Regions from separate parts of the Homo sapiens genome. Here regions 1, 2, 3 and 5 are each linked to region 4. Evidence: fine-mapped expression QTL. A gene starts in region 4. Each other region holds a variant in brackets. All regions are shown on one strand. Distances are between the middles of the regions.

Region 1 (5,103 bases), 480 kb after region 4:
TCACCGCCCAGGCAGCCCGCAGGAAGGAGCGCGTCCTCTGCCTGTTTGACGTGGACGGGACCCTCACGCCGGCTCGCCAGGTAGGACCCTGAAGATTGGAAGCTCCCACCGGGAGTGTCACGCGGACACCCCCGAGGCTGAGTGTGGGGTCTGCAGCAGCGTGACCGTGGACACCCGGGGACCGAGTGTGGGATGCGGCGGTACCCGGCCCCCTGACATCCGGGGCCACCCACCGGGAGTGAGGGGACCTGGCCCTCACGTCACTGACCCCGCAGCGTCCTTGCCTGTGTTCTGCTTGGGAGTGCTGGGGTTGGATCCAGTACTGGAGGGAGGAGGCTGCGAGCAGGGGCCTAGCTCCCTCCCTCCCCGGAGGCTGTCACACGCCGCTAAGGCCTGGCTCACGGACGCCCCCGCCTCCTGAGCTGGGGATCCCACCCTAGTTCAGCCCTACGACACACCAGTGGTCGGAGCTGGCTTCTGAACCGGGGTTCCAGGCACACAAGCACACAGCCAAGCGTCAGTCATCATCTGGTGGGAGACAGGGCGTCTCGGAGTCTTCCCACCCCGACCTTTGCAGGCCTGGGACTGGGTCTAGTTTCTGAAGCCCCATCACCCACTTTACCTTCCACCCCCAGTCGTGGAGCAGAGAGGGCTTCTTTTCAAATTCGTTTATGAGCTCTACCCACCCGGATGTGAGAGGCTCCAGGCCTAGCCTGTTTGCTGTGAGGACACTGAGGAATAGTGAGGGTAAGAGTCTAGTTTTCTTCTAAAGACTCTCGCTGTGTTGAGCCTCTTACCTCTGCTCAGTTTTTCTCCCATTGGGTCTCATTGTGAGTGAGTCCCCAAAAGCCCCCTCACCAGCTGGATGCATCAGTAAGCAGGCTTCATTCATGCCCTCCCTGTGGGTAACCCACCCTCCAGTCTGGGGGCCTCAAGGACCAACCAACAGGTCTCCTAGCGTGGGGGAGCAGTGGGATGGGCTTTACTGGGCAGTGGCTGATGGGAACCCAGGTCTTAGCCTCCTCTCTTAGGTCCCGAATGCCCCTCCCCATCCTCTGTGGTGAAGTTGCCCTGGCTTGGGCCCTGGAGGCCTTCCTGCAGGGGTGGATCCGGGAGGAAGATAGCAGGACTGGAGCAAAGGTGGGCCATTTGCTTGTGGGTCACGCCTGTAATCCCAGCACTTTGGGAGGCCATGGTGGGCAGATCACCTGAGGTCAGGAATTCTAGATCAGTCTGGCTAACATGGTGAAACCCCGTCTCTACTAAAAATACAAAAATTAGGCTGGGTTCAGTGGCTCACGCCTGTAATCCCAGCACTTTGGGAGGCCGAGGCAGACAGATCACGATGTCAGGAGTTTAAGACCAGCCTGACCAATATCGTGAAACCCTATCTCTACTAAAAATACAAAAAATTAGCCAGGCGTGGTGGCATGCACCTGTAATCCTAGCTAGTCGGGAGGCTGAGGCAGGAGAATCACTTGAACCCGAGAGGCAGAAGTTGCAGTGAGCCGAGAATGTGCCATTGCACTACAGCCTGGGCGACAGAGGGAGACTCAGTCTCAAAACAAAACAAAACAAAAAGTAGATGGGCGTGGTGTCGTGTGCCTGTAGTCCCAGCTACTGGGGAGGCAGAGGCAGGAGAATCGATTGAACCCAGGAGGTGGAGGTTGCAGTGAGCCAAGATTGTGCCATTGCACTCCAGCCTGGGCAACAAGAGTGAAACTCCGTCTCAAACAAACAAATAAATGAATAAAAGAACTGGAACAAAAGTGGCAGGGCCTAGGCACAGTTCTGACTCCTCCCTCTGACCTTTTGCTCCACAAACATAACAACCTGAATAAGAACAGCCTATTAATTTGTCTACGGGCCAGCCTCTGTGCTTAGTGCCTTTTGAAAGTTAATTTTTAATCGTACACATTTTCATGAGCACACTCTCCTGGTAAAGAATGGAAACGTAACAGAGAAGGGTAAAGTCCACTCTGACCGCACTTGGGGAGCCTGGCCGGCTCCCCAAGTTAATGTGGTTACTGTGGTGTGGCTTCCCTCCAGGCCTTTATCTGGATCTATTTGCCCAGAGCAAATATTAAGCATTGTTTTGTGAGGCTATTTTTGTTATTGTTCTTTGGCTCCTCAAAAATCAACTTGATTGTGATGCTATTTTGTTGTTGTTGTTGTTAGAGACCGGGGTCTCACTCTGTCACTCAGTCTGGAGTGCAGTGGCGCTATCACAGCTCACTGCAGCCTCGAACTCCTGGGCTCAAGTGATTCTCCCGCCTCAGCTTCTGGAGTAGCTGGTAGCTGGGACTACAGGCAAGTGCCACCATGCCTGGCTAATATCTTTTTTTTTTTTTTTTTTTGGAGATGAAATCTCATTCTTGTCCCCCAGGCTGGAGTGCGATGGCATGATCTCGGTTCACTGCAACCTCCACCTCCCGGGTTCAAGGGATTCTCCTGCCTCAGCCTCCTGAGTAGCTGGGATTACAGGCGCTTGCCACCACGCCCAGCTAATTTTTTTTTCTTTTTTTTTTTGAGACGGAGTCTCGCTCTGTCGCCCAGGCTGGAGTGCAGTGGCGTGATCTCAGCTCACTGCAAGCTCTGCCTCCCAAGTTCACGCCATTCTCCTGCCTCAGCCCTCCCGAGTAGCTGGGACTACAGGCGCGTGCCACCACGCCCGGCTAATTTTTTTGTATTTTTTAGTAGAGACAGGGTTTCACCATGTTAGCCAGGATGGTCTCAATCCCCTGACCTTGTGATCCACCCGCCTCGGCCTCCCAAAGTGCTGGGATTACAGGCGTGAGCCACCGCGCATGGCCAATTTTTTTTTTTTTTTTTTT[TTA/A]ATTTTTAGTAGAAACAGAGTTTCACCATGTTGGCCAGGCTGGTCTCGAACTCCTGACATCAAGTGATCCACCCTCCTGGGCCTCCCAAAGTGCTGGGATTACTGGTGTGAACCACCGTGCCAGCCCATGCCTGGCTAATTTTTAAAAACTTTCGGCCAGGCACGGTGGCTCACGCCTATAATCCCAGCACTTTGGGAGGCCCAGGCGGATGGATCACCTGAAGTCAGGAGTTCAAGACCAGCCTGGCCAACATGGCGAAACCCTGTCTCTACTAAAAATTTAAAACTTAGCTGGGCATGGTGGCAGGCGCCTGTAATCCCAGCTACTCGGGAGGCTGAGGCAGAAGAATCGCTTGAACCCGGGAGGCAGAGGTTGCAGTGAGCTGAGATCACGCCATCGCACTCCAGCCTGGGCAGAGGTTTCAGTGAGCCAGAATCACACCACTGCACTCCAGCCTGGATGACAGAACAAAAATTCGTCTCCAAAAAAATTTTTTTTTTCATAGAGACAATGTCTTCCTTTGCTGCCTAGGCTCTAGTCTCAAACTCCTGGGTCAAGTGATCTTTCTGCCTTGGCCTCGCAAAGTGTTGGGATTGCAGACCTGAGCCACAGTGTCCAACCTGTCTAATTTTTGGTGTCTAAGCTTTGTACTGCTTCAGATCCAGGTAGAATGTGGGCTTCCTGGGTTCTCAGCACTAAGTGAGGGCTAAGTGGAGGTCCCAGACATGTTGAAAGCCAGAATGCTATGCTTCCCCTCTCCCCCCATAGAAAATTGACCCTGAGGTGGCCGCCTTCCTGCAGAAGCTACGAAGTAGAGTGCAGATCGGTGTGGTGGGCGGCTCTGACTACTGTAAGATCGCTGAGCAGCTGGGTGACGGGGATGAAGGTAGGAGTGAGGCTGGGGGTAGAGGGAGTGGGGAGTTTGAGAGATTCCTGGGCGTCTTCAAAGATCCAGTCCTGCTTCTGTGGGGCAGAAGAAATAGAGAGAGAGCAGCCAGATAGTTCCCTTACTGATTTGACAAACACTTGAGCACTTCCTATTGCCAGGGATTGTGCCAGGCCCTTGAGAAATGGCTGGGGCAAAGCAAGCAGAACCTGCCCTTATGCAGTTTACATTCTCATTTCTCCCTGCTGAGTCTTGATTTCCTCATCTTTAAAATGGGCTGAACCAGCCGGCACAGTGGCTTACGCCTGTAATCCCAGCACTTTGGGAGGCCGAGGCGGATGGATCACTTGAGATGAGGAGTTCAAGACCAGCCTGGCCAACATGGTGAAACCCCGTCTCTACTAAAAATACAAAAAATTAGCTGGGTGTGTTGGCACGTGCCTGTAATCCCAGCTACTCGGGAGGCTGAGGCAGGAGAATCGCTTGAACCTGGGAGGCGGAGGTTGCAGTGAGCCAAGATCAGGCCACTGCACTCCAGCCTGGGTGACAGAGTGAGGCTACACATCCAAAAATAAATAAATAAATAAATAAATAAATAAATAAATAAATAAAAGGGCAGAACCAATGATGGCTACCATTTGTCAAAAATGATCATGTGTTAATGTCATTGCATTTGATCCCCACAATCACACTTTAGAGTAGGCGTGATCATCCCATTTAACAGAGGATGACTCTGAAGTTATCCAGGAAATCGACTGGACCTCAGAGCCCCTGGTCTCAGCCCAGTCAAAGTGGGTGCCTCCAGTTCCTCAAGCCAGAAACTTCCTCGAATTTTTCCTTTTCCCCACCTCTTGTTTATTCCATCAGCAAACCCCAAAATATCTCCCTGTCCCCTCTGTCTCCATCTCCACCACGCCATCATAGTCCAGGTAACCACGTGCCACCCAGACCCCGCAACAGCCTCTGGGCTGTGCTCCCTGTGCCTCCCACCTCCCACCCACTCCAACTGCTTCGCCTGGCAGTCAGAGCTGAAACCTCCAACTCTCCCATGCAGCCAGCCTTGAGAACCCAGTGCGATGGCAGCTATAGAACAGAAGGGAGCCCCTCTGCAGAGGGGCAGGGGAGCACAGAGTGGAAATGATGCCCTCTGCCAGAGAGTACTGCATGGCTTCCAGAGGAGGAAGCTGAATCTTGGAGGATGAGTGGCAGGGAAGCCAGGGAAGGGCGGTTCTGACAGAAGGACCTGCATGGATGCCTGTGTGCAGAGGCCCACAGGTGTGACTGGCTTCTTTGGAAGAAAACCAAGCTGCAGAGGGAGAAAGGCTGGAGAAGCAGGTTGTAGCCTCAGATTGAACAAATGGCCTTTGAATGTGAAACCAA
Region 2 (5,103 bases), 350 kb after region 4:
GTTTAAAATAAATATTCTTTTTTGAAGTTTAATTGGTTAAATTTCATTACACTTCAGTTTTGTGATTTGATAACACATTTTTAGTTTCCCTGTTGTTGTTTAAGTACATATGTTTGAAAATGGCAACAGTAACTGCTTTTAAGTTACTGCTTTTAAGTTAAGTTTTAAGCTTAAAACTACACTAAAACTTATGGAATACGTGTATGATTCCTAAGTCAGAAACCTGATCCTAGCTCATTACACTTGATGACCGACATTTAAACTCTGAAATGGACTAAACTATTTTCTTTAGAAGTCAGTTCTTTTCTTTTCTTGCTGTAGTCTCAGGACAAACTTTTCTTGCTATATTCTCCTGCCTCAGCCTCCCAAATAGCTGGGATTACAGGTGTGTGCCACCACGCCTGGCTAATTTTTGTATTTTTAGTAGAGATAGAGTTTCACCATGTTGACCAGGCTGGTCTCGAACTCCTGACCTCGTGATCCACCCGTCCCGGTCTCCCAAAGTGCTGGGATTACAGGCATGAGCCACTGCACCCGGCCTCCCTTCTCACTTCTAACCAGAGCTCCTCCTCCTCTTCCTTGCTGCAGAAAGAGCCCCAGAGTTTGGGCAATCAACCCCTGCTATCACATCAGGGTTTGCAGCTCTGCCAGCCCCCGTGCCGAGCACTGGGGAAAGATGCCAGACTCAGGTTTTGCCCTGAAAGAGCTCCCAGCCAGTCAACCACAATATGGTATGAGGTAAGCACGGTGACAGTGGGTCACATTCCGCCTAAAGGAGCCAGGGTGACAGGGGAGCCCTATAGGCTTGAAGGCTGACTCATATCAGCAGATAAAGAGAGGAGAAATGCCCTATAGGCAGAGGAAGAGCAACTGCACAGGCAGTGAGACAGGATGACCTAGCATATGCAGGACCAGGGAAAGACTGCATGTGGCTGGAGCACTGGGTTGTGGGGTGGAAGAGACAGGAAAGTGAGGCTGAAGGATATCCAGATAAAGAAGGTTCTCAGTACCAAGCTCAGAATCTGATCCCTAAAGCAACTGAGGTGACTTTGTTTCTATTGCTGTAAGTATTCTCCATTTTCAGGCAGCCCAAATGTGAAGGGGAAGTGCAGAGGTAAGAATTTACGGCTGGGCCTGGGGGCTCATGCCTGTAATCCCAGCATTTTGGGAGGCCGAGGCAGGCGGATCACAAGGTCAGCAGTTTGAGACCAGCCTGGCCAGCATGGTGAAGCCCCGTCTCTTCTAAAAATGCAAAAAATTAGCCGGGCATGGTGGCTTGGCGCCTGTAATCCCAACTACTCAGGAGGCTGAGGCAGGAGAATTGCTTGAGCCTGGGGGGCGGAGGTTGTAGTGAGCCAAGATCACGCCACTGCACACCAGCCTGGGCAACAGCGAGACTACATCTCAAAAAAAAAATAATAATAATTTACAACTGAGGCTAGGTGCAGTGGCTCACACCTGTAATCCCAGCACTTTGGAGGCCAAGGTGGGAGAATCACTTGAGCCCAGGAGTTGAGACCAGCCCAAGCAACATAGAAAGATCCCTGTCTCTACGAAAAGTTAAAAATTAGCCATGCCTCATGGTGAACACCTGTAGTCTCAGCTACTCAGGAAGCTGAGACAAGAGGATCGCTTGAGCCCAGGAGGTTGAGGCTGCAGTGAGCCGTGATTGTGCCACTACATTCCAGCCTGAGTGGAGAGAGCAAGACCTCGGCACTTAAAAAAAAAAAAAAAGAATTTACAAATGAAAGGAAATCTACTTTCTATCACCCAGGCTGGAGTGTAGTGGCATGATCATGGCTCAATGCAACCTCCGCCTCCTGGGTTCGAGCAATCCTCCCACCTCAGCCTCCTGAGTAGCTGGGATTACAGGTGCATACCACCACGCCCACGCCCAGCTAATTTTTTTTTTTTTTTTTTTGAGACAGAGTCTCGTTCTGTCACCAGGCTGGAGTGCAGTGGCGCGGTCTTGGCTCACTGCAACCTCCGCCTCCCAGATTCAAGGCATTCTCCTGCCTCAGCATCCCGAGTAGCTGGGACTACAGGTGTGTGCCACCACGCCCAGCTAATGTTTGTATTTTTAGTAGAGATGGGGTTTCACTGTGCTGGCCAGGATGGTCTCAATCTCTTGACCTCATGATCCGC[C/T]AGCCTTGGCCTCCCAAAACGCTGGGATTACAGGCGTGAGCCACCACGCCCAACTTTTTTGTATTTTTTATAGAGACAGGGTTTTGCCATATTGCCCAAGCTGGTCTTGCACTCCTGGGCTCAAGCAATCCACCAACCTAGGCCTCCGAAAGTGCTGGGACTACAGACATGAGCCACCGCCCCCAGCCAGTATATTATTTTGCCCAGTAAGAAAACACTTGGAAATCTGAGATAGGAGTGGTAGATGAAGACAAGGCCCAAGAAGCACTTGGGTCCCCTTGTTATTGAACCTAGAGACCAGGAATCACAAGACAACTACCTTTTTGAGCACCAAAGGCAGTGAGGTATTTCCTGATGACCCTTCGATATTCTTAGCACTTTCTCCCAGTCCATCCTGGTTCATGATCATGGACACAAAGAGATCATACTTCAACAGCTGCCTCAGCAAACCTAGGAAACAAAGGGATTGGGAAGTAAGGCAAGAGGAACACAGGCACCAGAGTACTCCCAAGATAGCCCCTCAGACATCCCCAGAGAAACTTCTTCATCCCTCTACAAATATGAAGAATGGTTAGAATCCTTAAGCACCAATTTGCTTTTTGCACCCGACTCTCTTCCACACAGATCTAGTGAGAGCCCACTAAGTGCTAGGCCTAAGGGTCTAGGGATTCAAGAGTAAGCAAGATAAACATAGCCCGACTGCCTCACTCAACTATAAGTTTCATGAGGGCAGGAATAATGTGAGTTTTTTCAACATAACATCATCCATCACCTGGCACAGTTCCTGACACATAGCAGGAACTCAAAAAATATTTTTTGACTAACAAAGGGAGCATACACTCCTGTAGGAGAAACAAACACAAAAACAAGTAAGACAAGACCAGGCGTGGTGGCTCACACCTGTAATCCCAGCACTTTGGGAGGCCAAGGTGGGTGTATCACTTGAGGTCAGGAGTTCAAGACCAGCCTGGCCAACATGGTGAAACCCCCTCTCTAGTAAAAAAATACAAAAAGTAGCCTGGCATGGAGGCATGTGCCTGTAGTCCCAACTACTCAGGAGGTTGAGGCAGGAGAATCGCTTGAACCCAGCAGACACAGGTTGCAGTGAACTGAGATGGCGTCACTGTACTCCACCCTGGGTGACAGAGTGAAACTCCATCTCAAAAAAAAAAAACCAAGTCAGACAAATGACCCTTATAATTGTGATAAATGATGTAAATGAGAAATACCCAAATACATGAAAATGTATATGAGGATTTAACCCAGTGTGGGGGATCAGTAAAGCCTTCCATCAGCAAGTACCATTTAAGCTGAATCTGAAAAATAAGTACGTAAAAGTAGGTGAAGTGGGGAGAAGTATTCCAGATACAGAGAACAACATTCTAGAAAGTGAAAGAAAGCCAGAATGGCTGGGGGAAAAAAAAGTCCAGAAATTACATTTGAGAAGTAGTCACAAAAGACCACATAAGCTATGTTAAGGATTCTGGTACTTATGCTGGGATTCATGGTAAGTCACCAAAGTGTTCCAAATAATACATACTTTAACAAACAAGTAAAGAAATGCATGTCAGAATATTAAATATTAAAATTAAATAATGTGGAAAAAAGCCCAGAGGACCGCAGGAAATCAAATGAATCATCTAATCTAGCCTGGGGGCCCAGGGAAGGCTTCTATAAGAAGATATTTGAACCAAATCTTGAAGGATGAGAAGTTGGATGTGAGCCAACTTCTGGGCAGAGGAATATATAAAGGCAGGAGAGTATGGTGTGTTCCTGGAGATGGATTTGGTTCAGTAAGGCTGAGTTAGGGTGGGGACAGATAGAGAAGTGAGAGATGAGGCTTGAGAGGTTAATAAGGATTAGACCATAAACAGCTTATGAGCATAGTGGGACCCCATCTCTACAAAAAAAAAAAAAAAAAAAAATTAAAATGCTGGCAAGGTGGCGTGCACCTGTAATACCAGCTACTTGGGAGATCAAGGTGAGAGGATCACTTGAGGCCAGGAGTTCGAGGCTGCAGTGAGCTATGAACATGCTACTGTACTTCAGCCTGGGCAATAGAACAGGTCCCATCTTTAAAAATAAGTAAATTAAATAAAATAAGAACTTATGAGGATCTTGGGTTGTAAAGTAAGTGAATAAGATGACATAAGACAGAATATAAGACCCTTGGTGCTTCAAGGGTCCAAAGGATGTGACTACATCCCTGGCTGAGGGGAGAGGGTGGGAAGGAAAGGCTCCAGAGAAGAGGTGACCTTTAAGTGTTGTCTGAAAGAAGGTTAGCACTCCCGTTGACCAGGATAAAAGAGGCCCTCGGGTCTGACAAACATGCATAGGGTTAATTTTTTTTATTATTTAAAAAAAAAAAAAAAGAGGCTGGCCGCGGTGGCTCACGCCTGTAATCCCAACACTTTGGGAGGCCGAGGCAGGCAGATCACGAGGTCAAGAGATTGACACCATCCTGGCCAACACGGTGAAACCCCGTCTCTACTAAAAATACAAAAATTAGTCGGGCATGGTAGCACGCGCCTGTAGTCCCAGCTACTCGGGAGGCTGTGGCAGGAGAATCACTTGAACCCGGGAGGCAGAGGTTGCAGTGAGCTGAGATCGTGCGACTGCACTCCAGCATGGTGAAAGAGCGAGACTCCATCTCAAAAAAAAAAAAAAAAAAAAGGGGTAGCATTTAAAAACGGGAATTCTGGCTGGGTGTGGTGGTTCATGCCTGTAATCCCAGCACTTCGGAAGTCCAAGGCACGTGGATCTCTTGAGCCCAGCAGTTCAAGACCAGCCTGGGCAATATAATGAGACCCAGACTCTACAAAAAAAAATTTTTTAATTAGCCAGGCACGGGCTGGGCACGGTGACTCATACCTGTAATCCCAGCACTTTGGGAGGCCAAGGCAGGCGAATCACGAGGTCAGGAGATGGAGACTGTCCTGGCTAACACGGTGAAACCCC
Region 3 (5,103 bases), 170 kb before region 4:
AATGGCGTGATTTTGGCTCACTGCAATCTCCGCCTCCGGGGTTCAAGTGATTCTCCTGCCTTAGCCTCCCGAGTAGCTGGGATTACAGGCATGCGCCATCACGCCCTGCTAATTTTGTATTTTTAGTAGAGACGGGGTTTCTCCGTATTGGCTAGGCTGGTCTCGAACTCCTGTTCTCAGATGATCCACCCGCTTCGGCCTCCCAAAGTGCTGGGATTACAGGCATGAGCCACCGCGCCCAGCCTTAAACTTTTAAAATTGTTATCTGTCATGAAGATCTGTGATCAGTGATCATCGATGTTACTTTTTTTTTTCTTTTTTGAGATGGAGTCTCGCTCTGTCGCCCAGGCTGGAGTGCAGTGGTGCGATTTCGGCTCACTGCAAGCTCTGCCTGCCGCGTTCACGCCATTCTCCTGCGTCAGCCTCCCGAGTAGCTGGGACTACAGGTGCCCGCCATCACACCTGGCTAATTTTTTTGTATTTTTAGTAGAGACAGGGTTTCACCGTGTTAGCCAGGTTGGTCTCAATCTCCTGACCTCATGATCCACCCACCTCGGCCTCCCAAAGTGCTGGGATTACAGGCGTGAGCCACCGCGCCCGGCCTGATGTTACTTTTGTAATTGTTTTGGAGCGCCACAAAGCACTCCCATATAAGACGGCGAACTTAATATATACATGTTGTGTATAGATGTGTGTTCAGACTGCTGCCAACTGGGTGTCCCCCCATCTCACCACCTCCTCAGGTCTCTCTGTTACCTCAGACACAACAGTATTGAAGTTAGGTCAGTTAATAACCTGATCATGACCATTAAATGTTCAAGTGACAGGAAGAATTGCACATCTCTCACTTTTAAATCAGAAGCTAGAAATGATGGTTTAGTGAGGAAGGCATGTCAAAAGCCAAGATAGGCTGAATACTAGGCCTATTGCACCAAACGTGGCCAAGTTATGAATGCAAGAAAAGGTTCTTGAAGAAAGTTAAAAGTACAACTCCAGTGAACACATGAATGAGAAGAAAACGAAACAGCTTATTGCTGATATGGAAAAGTTTTAGTGACTCAGATGGAAAATCAACCAGCCGCAACATTCCCTTAAGCCAGAGCCTAATCCCAGAGCAAGACTTTCTCTTTTCACTTCTGTGAAGGCTGAAAAAAGTAAGAAGCTGCAGAAGTGAAGTTTGAAGCTAGCACAGATTGGTTCCTAAAGTTCTTGAAACCATCTCTGTAACATTAAAATGCAAGTTGAAGCAAGTGCTAATGTAGAAGCTGCAGCAAGTTATCTAGAAGATGTAGCCAAGATCACTGATGAAGGTGGCTATATTGAACAGATATTCAGTGTAGCCTTATGTCAGAAAAGATGCCATCTAGGACTTCCATAATTAGGAGAAGTCAGTGCCTGGCTTCAAAAGACAGGCTGACTGTTATTAGGAGCTGGTGTAGCTGGTGAATTTAGGTTGATGCCAGTGCTCATTTACCATTCTAATAATTCTAGGGCCCATAAATTTATGCTAAATCTACTCTGCCTGTGCTCTGTCAGTGGATCAACAAAACCTAGATGACAGCACATCTGTTTACAGAATGGTTTAATGAATATTTTAAGGCCACTGTTGAGACCTACTACTCAAAAGATTTCTTTCAGAATATTACTTCTTGACAGTATACCTGGTCACCTAAGAGCTCTGATGGAAATGTATAAGGAGATAAATGTTGTTTTCATGCTTGCTAACACAACATCTATTCTGCAGCCCCTGGATCAAGGAATCATTTTGATTTTCAAGTCTTATTTAAGAAATATGTTTCATAAGGCTCTAGCTGCTATACATAATAATTCCTCTAGTGGGTCTGGGCAGAGTGAATTGAAAACCTTTCGGAAAGGATTTACCATTCTAAATGCCATTAAGAACATTTGTGATTCATGGGAGGAGGTCAGTACATGAACAGGAGTTTGGAAGATGATTCCAGCCCTCATGGATGACTTTGAGGGGTTCAGGACTTCAGTGGAGGCAGGAACTGCAGATGTGGTAGAAATAGCAAGAGAACTCGAATTAAAAGTGGAGCCTGGAGATGTGACTGGATTGCTGTAATCTCATGATAAAACTTGAACAGATGAGGAGTTGCTGCTTATGGATGAGCAAAGAAAGTGATTTATTGAGATGGAATCTACTCCTGATGAAGATGCTGTGAACATTGTTGAAATGCCAATGAAAGATTTAGAATATTACATAAACGTAGTTGATTAAGCAGTGGCGGGGTTGAAGAGAACTGACTGCAGTTTTGAAAGAAGTTCCACTGTGGGTAAAATGCTATCAAACAGTTTGGCATGCTATAGAAAAATCTCTTAGAAAAGGAAGAGCCAGTCGATGCGTCAGACTTCATGGGTGTGTTATTTGAAGAAATTTGCCACAGCCACCTCAGCCTTCAGCAACCACCACCCTAATTAGTCAGCAGCCATCAACATGGAGGCAAGACCCTCCGTCAGCAAAAAGATTAGGACTCCCTGAAGGCTCAGATGATTGTTAGCATTTTTTAACGATAAAGTATTTTTTAAATTAAGGTATGAACATTGTCTTTTAGACATAATACCATTTCACACTTAGTAGACTGAAGTATAGCGTACACATATAAAAGTTAATATGTGCTGGAAAACCAGAAAATTTGTGTGACTCGCTTTATTGCCACGGTCTGGAACCAGACCCAC[A/C]ATACCTGCAATGTTATGCTTGTGGCTGATTTTTCATAGAATGTTTGTGTCTCTTTGACTTTTTTATTTTCAAAATTTAGGATTGCAGGTGACTCTCCATTGGCTTATTTCAGAATGACTGGGGTTAGGGTGTTTGCTAATTGCATGCCAGTGGTCAGGGAAGAAGGGAAAACTCTTGCACTTTAGAGGCCATCTGCCTCCAAGTAGAGCTCCAACTGTCAGGCCACTGTCCCTCTGTGGGGAGGGTGGGGATTGGTCCTGTGGCTTGTAGTTCTTGCCATATAGATTAAGAATGCGCTCCGTCGGCATTCTTCATTGTGAATTAGAGGATTGATGAGGATTTAACCCTGCTGTGATTTCTATGAATGGACTGTAGATCCCAGGGTGTGGGATCTTTCCTAACTCGAGAATGACAAAAATTACCTGTCACAGAGTGCTGTTACACCAATCAGTAGTTATTTATTGTGTTTTTTAGGGTTTATTTTGTTTGTTTGATAACCTCTTTTCCATTTTTTTCCTTGTTGTCTTTTACTTGTTTTTTTGTTTTTGTTTTTGTTTGTTTTTTTGAAGTGGAATCTCACTGTCACCCAGGCTGGAGTGTGCAGTGGTGAGATCTCGGCTCACTGCAACCTCTGCTTCCTGGGTGTACAAGCAAGTGATTCTCGGATTACAGGTGCCTGCCACCATGCCCAGCTAATTTTTGTATTTTTGGTAGAGACAGGGTTTCACCATGTTGGCCAGGCTGATCTTGAACTCCTGACCTCAAGTGATCTGCCTGCCTCGGCCTCCCAAAGTGCTGGGATTATAGGCGTGAGCCACCATGTCTGGTGTCTTTTACTTATTTTATTATTGGTTCAAGTTTTTACCTGAGAGAGGGAAAGAGGGTGGTAATTCTAACAGTGATAATTTTGATTTATATGGTACTTAGCTGTTTGCAGACTTACTGTGGGACATTCCCGTGTGGTGGCAAGGTAGGTTAACTCCACTTTTGCAGGTGAAGAATGTGAGACATATGGGTTAAATAACTTGCCCAAGTCACAGAACAAGTGGCAAGACTAGGAAGTATTTAGATTTCTTAATTCTAAATGTAGTACTTTTTCCAACAGATGACCCAGAAGAATCAATAGAAAACAAATTTAATAGTGGAAGCAATTGTATGTACAAATAAAATTGTATTTTTTGTTCACTTCGCTTACTAAAATAAAATCCTATTTCTAGATGATTTTCTAAACATGTTTTTCTTGGTCTCTTTGTTCAAGTCATTTAGTTTGACTCTAGGTAAGATAGTACTACTCAATGTTCTTTCTGTCACTTCAGGAGAGAGATGGTGTGCACCAGTTGATACCCAATGTTCCCTTGTTCTTCTCCCTGATATTACATCAGAGAAGTCCCCAGTTGAGAAGGGAGGAGGAAAGTTTTATGGTTACTGTTCCTCAAATCTCTTGGGAAAGACAGCAAACTGCTGTCAGGAGTAGTTTTCTTTTGTCTCAGTGTCTGTTACATTTATACATGGCACCCTCCTTATCATAGTTATGGCTTGCACCCTAAAATAAGGTCTAGAGCGACAGACATTTACAAAGTTCTTTTTTTTTTTTTTTTTGAGACAGAGTCTCATTCTGTTGGCCAGACTGGAGTGCAGTGGCACGATCTCGGCTCACTGCAACTTCTGTCTCCTGGGCTCAAGCAATTCTCCTGCCTCAGCCTCCCGAGTATGTGGGACTACAGGCATGCGCCACTATGCCTGGCTAATTCTTGTATTTTTTTTAGTAGAGGTGGGGTTTCACCATGTTGGCCAGGCTTGTCTTGAACTCCTGACCTCGTGATCCGCCTGCCCTGCCCTCCAAAAGTTCTGGGATTTACAGGCGTGAGCCACTGCACCCGGCACAAAGTTCTTATGCTACCGAAATGATCTTTTTGTTCTTCTGACCCTAATTATTAGGTTTTCTGACCCTAAATTAATTTGCTAATTCTTGATGCTCTTCTTGGATACTTAGATGTAACTATTTCACCTTAGTTTGGAGTTAGCATTTTGATGTTTTTAATATATTTGAAATAATCCTGCAAACTATTTTTTGGTTTGGGCTTTTAAGTGGGACGCTCAATCTTCAGAAGGACTTTTAGCTTATGGACACTTAAAAAAAGCAAGAACTAGCACATTGTTTCTTGGTATTTTGGAATTGTGGTGAGTTTGAGGCAACCGTGGAAGTGTAGAGTGTGTTGACTCACCTCCGCTCCTCCTAACTCCTGTGTTCATTTCACAGGAATTAATCGTCCAGACAATATTCCTCCCATGCCTGCATCCCCAGCCATATGGAGAGGACCCCATAAACTGTAAAAAGGTTCATTGGCTTTTATCTGGAGGGGACTAAACCCATAGAACTCGGTTCTGCTTTTTGCTTCATTTGA
Region 4 (5,092 bases):
ACTTTCCTATGCTCATGCTTTTATTTTCTTGTTTATTGCCTGTCTCCCCTACTAAATTTTATTCAGTTAATACTGTACACCATAATAAATGTGTTAGAAGATAATAAGTGGCATGGAAAAACAGAGGAGGGTAAGGGAGATGGGAAATTGTGGGAGTAGGGAGGTTGCAATTGCAAATAGAGTGGTCAGGGTAGGCCTCACTGAGAAAGTAACATTGGACAAATACTTGAAGGAAATGAGGGAGCCAGCCATGCCAATTCCAGGCAGAGGGAACAGTCAGCGCAGTGGCCCTCAGGCCTGTTGTGCTTGAGGACCTGCAAGAAGGCCAGTGAGGCTGGGAGGCCTGGGGAGGGGCAGACAGTAGGAGGTGGGGGTAGAAGGGGTGGGATGGGGCTCTGTAAATCTGGGAGGGCTGTTACTCTAGACAGGGCTGTGAGGAGGGACCTGAGCGATTTCAAGGCATACTCTGGCTTCTGTGGTGAGAATCAATGTCAGTGGAGGCTGGAGACCAGTGAGGAGCCTGCTGCCACTATCCAGGCGAGATGTCACAAACGCGGCAAGAGCGGGGAGGGAGAGGCAGCCAGAATTAGAATGGCTGTTGAAGGTAGAGAACACAGGATTTGCTGAGGAGTTGGATGTGGGGAGTGAGGGAAAGAGCAGGCAGGACTGCACAGTTTTGGCTTGAGCACCTAGGAGAGTTGTCATTATCTGAGATGTGGAAAGTGGCCGGTGCTTGGTCTGGGTTATGTTTGAGACACCCAGTGGCCATCTGAGTGAAGGTGCTGTTGGGGCTCAGAAAGCGATGCCTAAAAATATGGCACTTGGGCATGCTGAGTACTTTGAACCAAAGGACACTGGAAGAGCCTCAGAAGCAAAGTATCTCTCTGACCTTCTCCTGCCCCCCTTCTTTCTCCTGTTTTTCTCCTGCAAGGCAGGCCATAGAAACTAAAAATCCTCCTCCCTAAGGTGAGTTATAGCAACTACAAATATTGGCTGGGCACAGTGGCTCATGCCTGTAATCCCAGCACTTTGGGAGGCTGAGGTGGGCGGATCACGAGGTCAAGAGATCAAGACCATCCTGGCCAACATGGTGAAACCCCATCTCTACTAAAAATACAAAAATTAGCTGGGCATGGTGGCGTGCGCCTGTAGTCCCAACTACTTGGGAGGCTGAGGCAGGAGAATCGCTTGAACCTGGGCGGCGGAGGTTGCAGTGAGCAGAGATCGCGCCACTGCACTCCAGCCTGGTGACAGAGGGAGACTCTGTCTCAAAAGAAAAAAAAAAAGAAAAAAAAGTAACTACAAATATTACTGGAAACATCCCCCACCTTTCTGTGTCGGGCCTGGCCATAAAGGAATTCTCTGATCTACCTTGCCTGATACTAGGTCATAAGACTCTCATTCCAGAAGGGGTCCTGCCCTCCTCCCAGCAGGAGGGAATGCCACACAGAGAGAACAAGAAGAATCCGAATCTGAACAGACATTGCTGGGTTTCCACACTCAGCTATTAACATTAAATCATTCCCTTTTGTCTAATCGCGTTTATACACAGTTGTCCATTCCTTATTCCTTTTTTTTTTTTTCTGTTGCCCGGGCTGGAGTACAGTGACACAATCACAGCTCACTGCAACCTCGACCTCCTGGACTCAAGCAATCCTCCCACCTCAGCCTCCCGAGTAGCTGGGACCACAGGCACCTGCCTGGCTTTTTAATTTTTTGTAGAGACAGGGTCTCACTATGTTGCCCAGACTGTCCTTAAATGTCTGGCCTCAAGCGATCCCCCTGCCTCAGCCTTCCAAAGTGCTGGGATTACAGGCATGAGCCACCAGACCCGGCCAGGGCTGTCCATTCTTCATCAAACCGAGACATAAAAATAAAGATTTCCCTGAGTATTTGTGTCTTCATTCCTGAAGGCTCTCAAGTCACATAAAACATTGAGTAAATCAATCTATTATGCTTTTCTCTTGCTAACCTATATTTTATTTGTAGGAGTGTCCGCTGTGACCTTTGGGATGAGTAAGGGAAAATATCACACCTTTCTGCCCCTACAATGCCCAGAACAAAGCATTTGGCACTTAGCAGTTTCTCAATAAATACTTGATGAATGAATGAAGAAGGAAGTAGCCCAGTCTGTGCGAGTAGTCCCTGAGCGTCAGGCGGGGAAGGAGAGCCGGCTGCCTTTGCGGGAGCTGTGACCGCCTGCTTTGGTGCCTCCCACGCACCCTCCTTGTAGAGACGATTAATCCCAGACTTCCATTTTCCTAGCAGCTCACTAGGCGGGCCTTGCTTCAGAGCAGTCTCTCATTTCCTCTGCACAAAGCCCTCAACCGTCCTCTGCACGGCCGCTTACTGAGCGCCCACGGTGAGCCTGGCACGATCCTTGCCCTCTTGGTCCCCACAGAGGTGGAAGGACAGGCCTCGCGGGGTCCGGGCCACGAAGGACAGCCCCGAGTCCGTTCTGCCAATGCCTGCCTCGCTAGCACGCAGGGCGGGAGCCCAGTGGGGAAGGGCTTAGGGAGGCTGGGAGGCCGGACCCATATGGGCGGGGCACAGCGTTGCTAGGGGGGATTCTGATAGGTTGCGCGAAGGGTTGCCTTCGTGAGGCCCCGCCCTCACTGGAACGCTTCGGACTTATCAGGTTACCGGATTCGAGTCAGAAGCGGCGGCAGGTCTGAACGCTTCGGTAGGATAAGTGCGGTGGGAGGGGGCTCTGCGGTTTTGGGGAGCCCAGGGCGGGAACCCGGACCCGGCTGGAAGTCCGGAGCCTGGCCGCAGCCCCGCCCCTCCGCTCTTTCTTGGTGACCTTAAGCCAGTGGCTGCCTTTTTCTGAGCCCGGGCGGGGCCGAAGGCGGCCCGTAGGCCCTCGGGACTCCCAGCACTGCAGAGGGTGTGAGGTCTGACATCCAAGACACGTTGTTTCGTATTTCTGAAGGAAGAACTGAAGCTCCGGGAAGTGATGGCTGGGGATGGGGCGGGCAACTTGGGGACCGAGTGTACGATCCACGCCTAAGGTTGAGGGCGGCCGAGCTAGCCAGGCAGCCGTGACCCCAGTGCTTTTCAGACGTTTCTTAGCTTCCAGAGCCCAACACATACAGCTGATACACGCAGACCAGATCTGGTCAGGTCCTCGGAAGCTGAGTCCAGAGCGATGCTGCTGAAGACAGGTACCTACACCGGCTGGGGTGGCTTGGAAGGGTAGGGGTGAGTGCTACAAGGAGTGCTTTGGCCCTTCTTCCCTAATGTGGGTATGTGGAGAGACAGGTTCCTCTCTCTTTTACTTAGAGCTGGGCAGGAAGGGAGGAGATGCTTCCCCATACGGGAATCATTTCTCCTTCAAAGGGGCCCTTCCTTTCTCACTTCCTCTCCCTCAAGCACAGAGGCCCTAACTGATGGATATCAGCATGTGCGGAGAACCGCCTGTACAGTCCCTACAGTAACTCCATATTACAGATAAGGAAACTGAGGCCCGAGGGGGAAAGGTCTCACTTAGGTGAGCTGATTGGGTGCCCATCCTGGCTGGCTTACTTCTTAAGCCTCTCTGAGGCCTCTTGAGGGTCTGTGGTAGAGAGCAAAGAGCTCTGGACTGGGGCTCAGGAGACCTGGAGTCTGGCCAATGGTCCCGACTTAACGATTTTTCAACTTTACTGTGGTGTGAAAGCGACGCACATTCAGTAGAAACCACAGTACGTATACAACCTGTGTTTCAGTATTCAGTAAATTGCATGAAATATTCAACAATTTATTATAAAATAGGCTTTGTGTTAGATGATTTTGGCCAGCTGTAGGCTAATGTGCGTTGTCGCACTTTTTTTTTTTTTTTTTTTTTGAGACGGAGTCTCACTCTGTCACCCAGGCTGGAGTGGAGTAGAGTGGCGCGATCTCGGCTCACTGCAACCTCCATCTCCCAGGTTCAAGCAAGTCTCCTGCTCAGCCTCCTAAGTAGCTGGGATTACAGGCACTCACCACCTCACCCCGGTATTTTTTTGTAGTTTTAGTAGAGACAGGGTTTCACCATATTGCCCAAGCTGGTCTTGAACCCCTGACTTACGGTGATCCGCCCACCTCGGCCTCCCAAAGTGCTGGAATTACAGGAGTGAGCCACCGTGCCTGGCCTGTCCACATTTTTAAGGTAGGCTAGGCTCAGCTATGATGTTTGCCAGGTTAGGTGTATTAAGTACATTTTTGACATAATATTTTCTTTTTTATTATTTTGGGATGGGGTCTCGCACTGTCACAGCCCAGGCTAGAGTTCAGTGGCACGATCTCAGCTCACTGCAGCCTCCGCCTCTGGGGTTCAAGTGATCCTCTTGCCTCAGCCTCCCGAGTACAGCGCATGCCACCACGCCTGGCTAAGTTTTTGAATTTTTAGTAGAGACAAGGTTTCACCATGTTGGCCTGACCTCAAGTGATCCACTCGCCTCGGCCTTCCAGAGCGTTGGGATTACAGGCATGAGCCACTGCATCTGGCTGATGTGATATTTTCAACTTACACTGGGCTTATGAGAACGTAGTTCCGTGGTAGGCCTAGGAGCATCTGTACTGTTAAGTTCTATATATGGGATGGGAGGAGCTGATGGGGGTTATAGGAAGGTTAGGACATAAGGTGTTAGTTTTGCTAATTCCAGCAATGCTGTGGTGACGGCCAGACCTCAAGCCACTGCCTGGCCCAGGCACCATCCTCCCACTTACTGCTTTGCAAGAGCCAGCCATTGCAGGAAGAGCCAATTCTACCCTAAACCCAGGAGTCCAGTTTCCCTTATATATAGGCAGGCAGCCTCTGTAGGGCTGAGCAACATACAGATGGGGTGGGATGAGGGCTGGAGCTGTGGGGGCAACTGATAGTCACCATCCCCTCCTCCCTTGCCCCCTAGTGCTCTTGCTGGGACATGTGGCCCAGGTGCTGATGCTGGACAATGGGCTCCTGCAGACACCACCCATGGGCTGGCTGGCCTGGGAACGCTTCCGCTGCAACATTAACTGTGATGAGGACCCAAAGAACTGCATAAGGTGAGTAAGGTCCACACTCACCTGATGAGCCTTGCCCAGGGCCCTGCAGATTCGGGGGCAGGAAGTGGAGAGTCCACTAGAAAAG
Region 5 (5,103 bases), 33 kb before region 4:
GAAGTAAATGATCTAAGGCAAACTTTAGCAATTGAAACAAAATATCAAGATGCAAATGCCTGGTTGGAATGGACCAAATATTCTGTCCGCACATGAAACAAAAGCAATTGTTATGCTTGTGCTCACGGCCAGCCAGAGACCCAGATAGACCCCTTTACACTCGGCTGGTCCCCCAGTCAACCAGGCATGGGCAGCATGGTAGCTCTCTTCCAGGATTCCATAGCTTGGGGCAATCAATCATGCCAAGCTCTCTCTTTGCTCTATCCCAAAGTTCAATATCCTGCGGGTCAGCCCCAGAGGGCCATCCAGCTTCTGGCTCCCAATGTCAATTTCACGTCCTGTCTCTCACGACAAGGGGAAAACTTGGTGTTCCTTGGAAGCTTAACAGGATGCAGTGAGCTTAAGCCTTTCCAAGAGCTTACCCATCAGTCTGCCCTTAGTCATCCTCAAGAAGATGTATGGTGGTATTGTGGCGGACCCTTACTGGACACTCTGCCAAGTAACTGGAGTGGTACCTGCACTCTTGTCCATTTGGCTATCCCTTTCACCCTGGCGTTTCATCAGCCAGAAAAAGAAAAGCCACAACACCATAAAATAAGAGAAGCCCCTTATAGGTTTTTTGACTCTCAAGTTTATTTAGATGCAACTGGAGTCCCATGGGGAGTACCTGATAAATTAAAAGCCCGGGACCAAATAGTCTGCAGGATTTGAATCAATATTTCCATGGGTAACTATTAATAAAAATGTAGACTGTATAAATTACATCTATTATAACCAACAGCAGTTTATTAATTATACCAGGGATGCTGTCAAAGGAATAGCTGAGGAGTTAGGGCTGACTAGCCAGATGGCTTAGGAAAACAGAATGGCCCTAGGCATGATACTAGCTGAAAAAGGTAGAGTTTGTGTTATGATTAAAACTCAGTGTCGTACCTTCATCCCAAACCATACTGCCCCAGATGGGAGCATAACAAAAGCCTTACAAGGACTTACCATTTTATCTAATGAATTAGCTAAAAATTCTGGAGTCAATAACCCTTCTTCAGGATGGCTAGACAGGTGGTTTGGTAAATAGAAAGGAATCATAGCCTCAATTCTTACTTCTCTTGCAGTCATAATAGGTGTACTCATTCTTGTTGGGTGTTGTGTCACACCATGCAACCATGGGCTAGTACAAAGGCTTATAGAAACAGCACTTACTAAAATCTCCCTTAGCTCTCCTCCACCTTATTCAGATAAGCGTTTCCTTTCAGACGATCAAGTCAAACAGCAAAGCCAAGACATCTTAAAAAGGTTTGAAGAGGAAGAACTATAAAAATTAAAAGGGGGAAATTGTAGGATACAATAAAATTCTTCAAAGGTTTAGCCTGTTAACTTCCTTGTTCTTTGTTCTCAAACTCAACTTTCTTGTTCTCTATGCCTCCTTGCCCCTAGTTACTGTAACTGTAAACAACTTTCCTGTCAGTCCTAATCAATAACTCACATCTGTTCCCTTGGTTACCCACTCTTCACCCGTTCCTCCCTTTGAAACCGCACATCCCACCATTGTAACTCACATTTCCCTTCCCTTCCTTATTTGGGAAAGTATTCACAAATAGCCAATTGGGTCAGTTTAGATTGTGCGGTCCAACCACAGCCCATGGAGGAATGACAAAGAGGCAGGGACTGCATTAGGAATAAAAACCCCTGCTTTCCTTTGTTCAGTGTGCTCTTGCAATCGTGATTGACACAAGCAGCACCCTTCTGCAGAAGTAAATTGCCTTGCTGAGAAAATTTTTGCCTGAGTGCTGGTTTCGCTTTGTGGCACTGAACATTTATCTCCAACAAGTAGAAGAAAGAACTTCAGAGCTTGAAGACAAAGCATTTGAAGTAACTCAACCAGACAAAGACAAATAAAAAAGAATTTTTTTTTTTTGAGACAGTCTCGCTCTGTTGCCCAGGCTGGATGGAGTGCAGTGGCGTGATCTCGGCTCACTGCAAGCTCTGTCTCCTGGGTTCATAGCATTCTCCTACCTCAGCCTCCTGAGTAGCTGGGACTACAGGCGACCGCCACCACACCTGGCTTATTTTTTGTATTTTTAGTAGAGATGGGGTTTCACC[G/A]TGTTAGCCAGGATGGTCTCGATCTCCTGACCTTGTGATCTGCCTGCCTCGGCCTCCCAAAGTGCTGGGATTACAGGCGTGAGCCACTGCGCCCGGCGAATATGAATTTTTAAAAATGAACAAAGCTTCCAAGAAATTTGGGATTACGTTAAACAGCCAGACCTAAGAATAATTGGTGTTCCTCAGGAAGAAGAGAAATCTAAACATTTAGAAAGCTTATTGGAGGGAATAATCAAGGAAAAGTTCCTTGCTCTCACCAGAGATCTAAACATCTAAATACAAGAAGCTGAAAGAACACCTGAAAAATTCATTGCAAAAAGATAATTACCTAGGCACACAGTCATCAGGTTATCTAAAGTCAAGATGAAGGGAAACATCTTAAGAGCCATGAGGCAAAAGCATCAGGGAACCTACAATGGAAATCCTATCAGATTAACAGCAGATTTCTCAGCAGAAACCCTATAAGCCAGAAGGGATTGGGGTCCTATCTTTAGCCTCCTCAAACAAAATAATTGCCAGCCAAGAATTTTGTATCCAGCAAAACTATGCTTCATAAATGAGGAGAGATAAAGTCTTTTTCAGACAAACAAATGCTGAGAGAATTTGCCACTAGCAAGCCAGCACTACAAGAAATGTCAAAAGGAGTTCTAAATCTTGAAACAAAAATAGAACCTCCTTTAAGTATATGTTTTAAAAGGCTTATAAAACAATAACACAATTTAAAAAAGCACAACTATCACTATGAATAAAACACTATCTCATAATTCAATACCAACATTGAATGTAAATGGCCTGAATGCTCCACTTAAAAGACACAGAATGGATAAAATTCACCAACCAACCATCTGCTGTCTTCAAGAGACTCATCTAATGCATAGGGACTCACATAAACTTAAGGTAAAGGGGTAGAAAAAGATACTGCACGCAAATGGAAACCAAAAGCAAGTACGAGTAGCTATTCTTTTTTTTTTTTCTTTGAGATGGAGTCTCGCTCTGTTGCCCAGGCTGGAGTGCAGTGGCACGATCTCGGCTCACTGCAACCTCTGCCTCCTGGGTTCAAACAATTCTCCTGCCTCAGCCTCCCAAGTAGTTGGGACTACAGGCATGCGCCACCATGCCCAGCTAAATTTTTTGTATTTTTAGTAGAGACAGGGTTTCACCATGTTAGCCAGGATGGTCTCAATCTCCTGACCTCATGATCTGCCTGCCTTGGCCTCCCAAAGTGCTAGGATAATAGATGTGAGCTGGCCAAGAGTAGCTATGTTTTTTTGTTTTTGTTTTTTTTTCTGAGACTAAGTCTTGCTCTGTCACCAGGCTGGAATGCAGTGGCGCTAACTTGGCTCACTGCAACCTCTGCCTCCTGAGTTCAAGCAATTCTCCTGCCTCAGCCTCCCGAGTAGCTGGGACTACAGGGGCATGCCACCACACCAAGCTAATTTTTGTATTTTTAGTAGAGATGGGGTTTCACAATGGTGGCAAAGATGATCTCAATCTCCTGACCTCGTGATCCACCTGTCTCAGCCTCCCAAAGTGCTGGGATTACAGGCATGAGCCATCATGCCTTGCCGAGTAGCTATTCCTATATCACACAAACAGACTTTAAAGCAACAACGGTTAAAAAAAAGACAAAAAGGGGCCAGGCGTGGTAGCTCACACCTGTAAACCCAGCACTTCGGGAGGCCAAGGCGGGTGGATCATGAGGTCAGGAGATCGAGACCATCCTGGCTAACATGGTGAAACCCCGTCTCTACTAAAAAAATACAAAAAAATGAGCTGGGCATGGTGGTGGGTGCCTGTAGTCCCAGCTACTCTGGAGGCTGAGGCAGGAGAATGGTGTGAAGCCGGGAGGTGGAGCTTGCAGTGAACCGAGATTGCGCCACTGCACTCCAGCCTGGGCAACAGAGTGAGACTCTGTCTCAAAAAAAAAAAAAAAAAAAAAAAAAGACAAAAAGGGACATTACATAACGATAAAAGATCAGTCCAGCCGGGCGCAGTGGCTCACACCTGGAATCCCAGCACTTTGGGAGGCTGAGACGGGCGGATTACGAGGTCAGGAGATCAAGACCATCCTGGCTAACATGGTGAAACCCCGTCTCTACTAAAAATACAAAAAAATTAGCCGGGTGTGGTGGTGGGCACCTGTAGTCCCAGCTACTCGGGAGGCTGAGGCAGGAGAATGGCATCAATCCAGGAGGCGGAGCTTGCAGTGAGATGAGAGCTGAGATCACGCCACTGCACTCCAGGCTGGGCAGACAGAGCGAGACTCTGTCTCAAAAAAAAAAAAAAAATCAGTCCAACAGGAAAATATCACAATCCTAAATACATATGCACCTTAATGGGCCAGGCACAGTGGCTCACACCTGTAATCCCAGCACTTTGGGAGGCTGAGGCAGGCGGATCACTTGAGTTCAGGAGTTCGAGTCCAGCCTGACCAACACGATGAAACCCCATCTCTACTAAAAATACAAAATTTAGCTGGGCATGGTGGCAAGCACCTGTACTGCCAGCTACTCGGGAGGCTCAGGCAGGGAAATCACTTGAACCCAGGAGGCAGAGGTTGCAGTGAGCCAAGATCACGCCACTGCACTCTAGCCTGGGCAACAGACCAAGACTCCATCTCAAAAACAAACAAACAACAAAAAAAAAACAGGTAAAGATGATACAGATTAACATCCTCATAAACACAGATGCAAATATTAACAAAATCTTATCACATTGAAAATAATATGTAAATATATACAACATTATCTATAGCATTTACTCCCAGGAATGCAAGGTTGGTTCAACATTCAAAAACCAATAAATGAAATTAACCATATTAACAGACAGAAAAAGAAAAATTCCATGATTATATCAATAGATGCATAAAATATATTTCACAAAATCAACATCTGAACCTCAAAGAAAAGAAAATTCCCAGCAAACGAGGAATTCATGGAAACATTTTCAATCCGATGAGGGGTATCTACGAAAAACCTACAGCTAGCAACATACTCAATGGTA

Evidence for each region.
Region 1: its variant is fine-mapped to the expression of NAGA in whole blood (INTERVAL, PIP 0.93).
Region 2: its variant is fine-mapped to the expression of NAGA in whole blood (INTERVAL, PIP 0.98).
Region 3: its variant is fine-mapped to the expression of NAGA in whole blood (INTERVAL, PIP above 0.99).
Region 5: its variant is fine-mapped to the expression of NAGA in whole blood (TOPMed, PIP above 0.99).

Annotation. Positions count from the first base shown.
Region 1 is chr22:41,584,696-41,589,798 of GRCh38, reverse strand. It overlaps PMM1 (phosphomannomutase 1), which reads left to right. Exons shown (of 8, transcript NM_002676.3): 1 at 1-80; 2 at 3,606-3,723. Among named protein-coding and RNA genes, the nearest start is that of PMM1, 2.6 kb to the left of the region's middle. RefSeq lists an enhancer at 155-834. The variant TTA/A (reference allele first, on the strand shown) is at 2,835.
Region 2 is chr22:41,721,435-41,726,537 of GRCh38, reverse strand. It overlaps MEI1 (meiotic double-stranded break formation protein 1), which reads right to left. Exons shown (of 31, transcript NM_152513.4): 7 at 2,465-2,595. It also overlaps the pseudogene RNU6ATAC22P. Among named protein-coding and RNA genes, the nearest start is that of MEI1, 24 kb to the right of the region's middle. The variant C/T (reference allele first, on the strand shown) is at 2,146.
Region 3 is chr22:42,234,336-42,239,438 of GRCh38, reverse strand. All of the region lies in intron 1 of TCF20 (transcription factor 20), which reads left to right. Among named protein-coding and RNA genes, the nearest start is that of TCF20, 34 kb to the left of the region's middle. The variant A/C (reference allele first, on the strand shown) is at 2,698.
Region 4 is chr22:42,068,354-42,073,445 of GRCh38, reverse strand. It overlaps NAGA (alpha-N-acetylgalactosaminidase), which reads left to right and starts at 2,634. Exons shown (of 9, transcript NM_000262.3): 1 at 2,634-3,164; 2 at 4,872-5,007. The coding sequence starts at 3,149. RefSeq lists enhancers at 2,324-2,373, 4,729-5,092 and a silencer at 2,554-2,853.
Region 5 is chr22:42,101,184-42,106,286 of GRCh38, reverse strand. The region is part of intron 3 of NDUFA6-DT (NDUFA6 divergent transcript); the gene reads right to left. Among named protein-coding and RNA genes, the nearest start is that of NDUFA6-DT, 13 kb to the right of the region's middle. The variant G/A (reference allele first, on the strand shown) is at 2,101.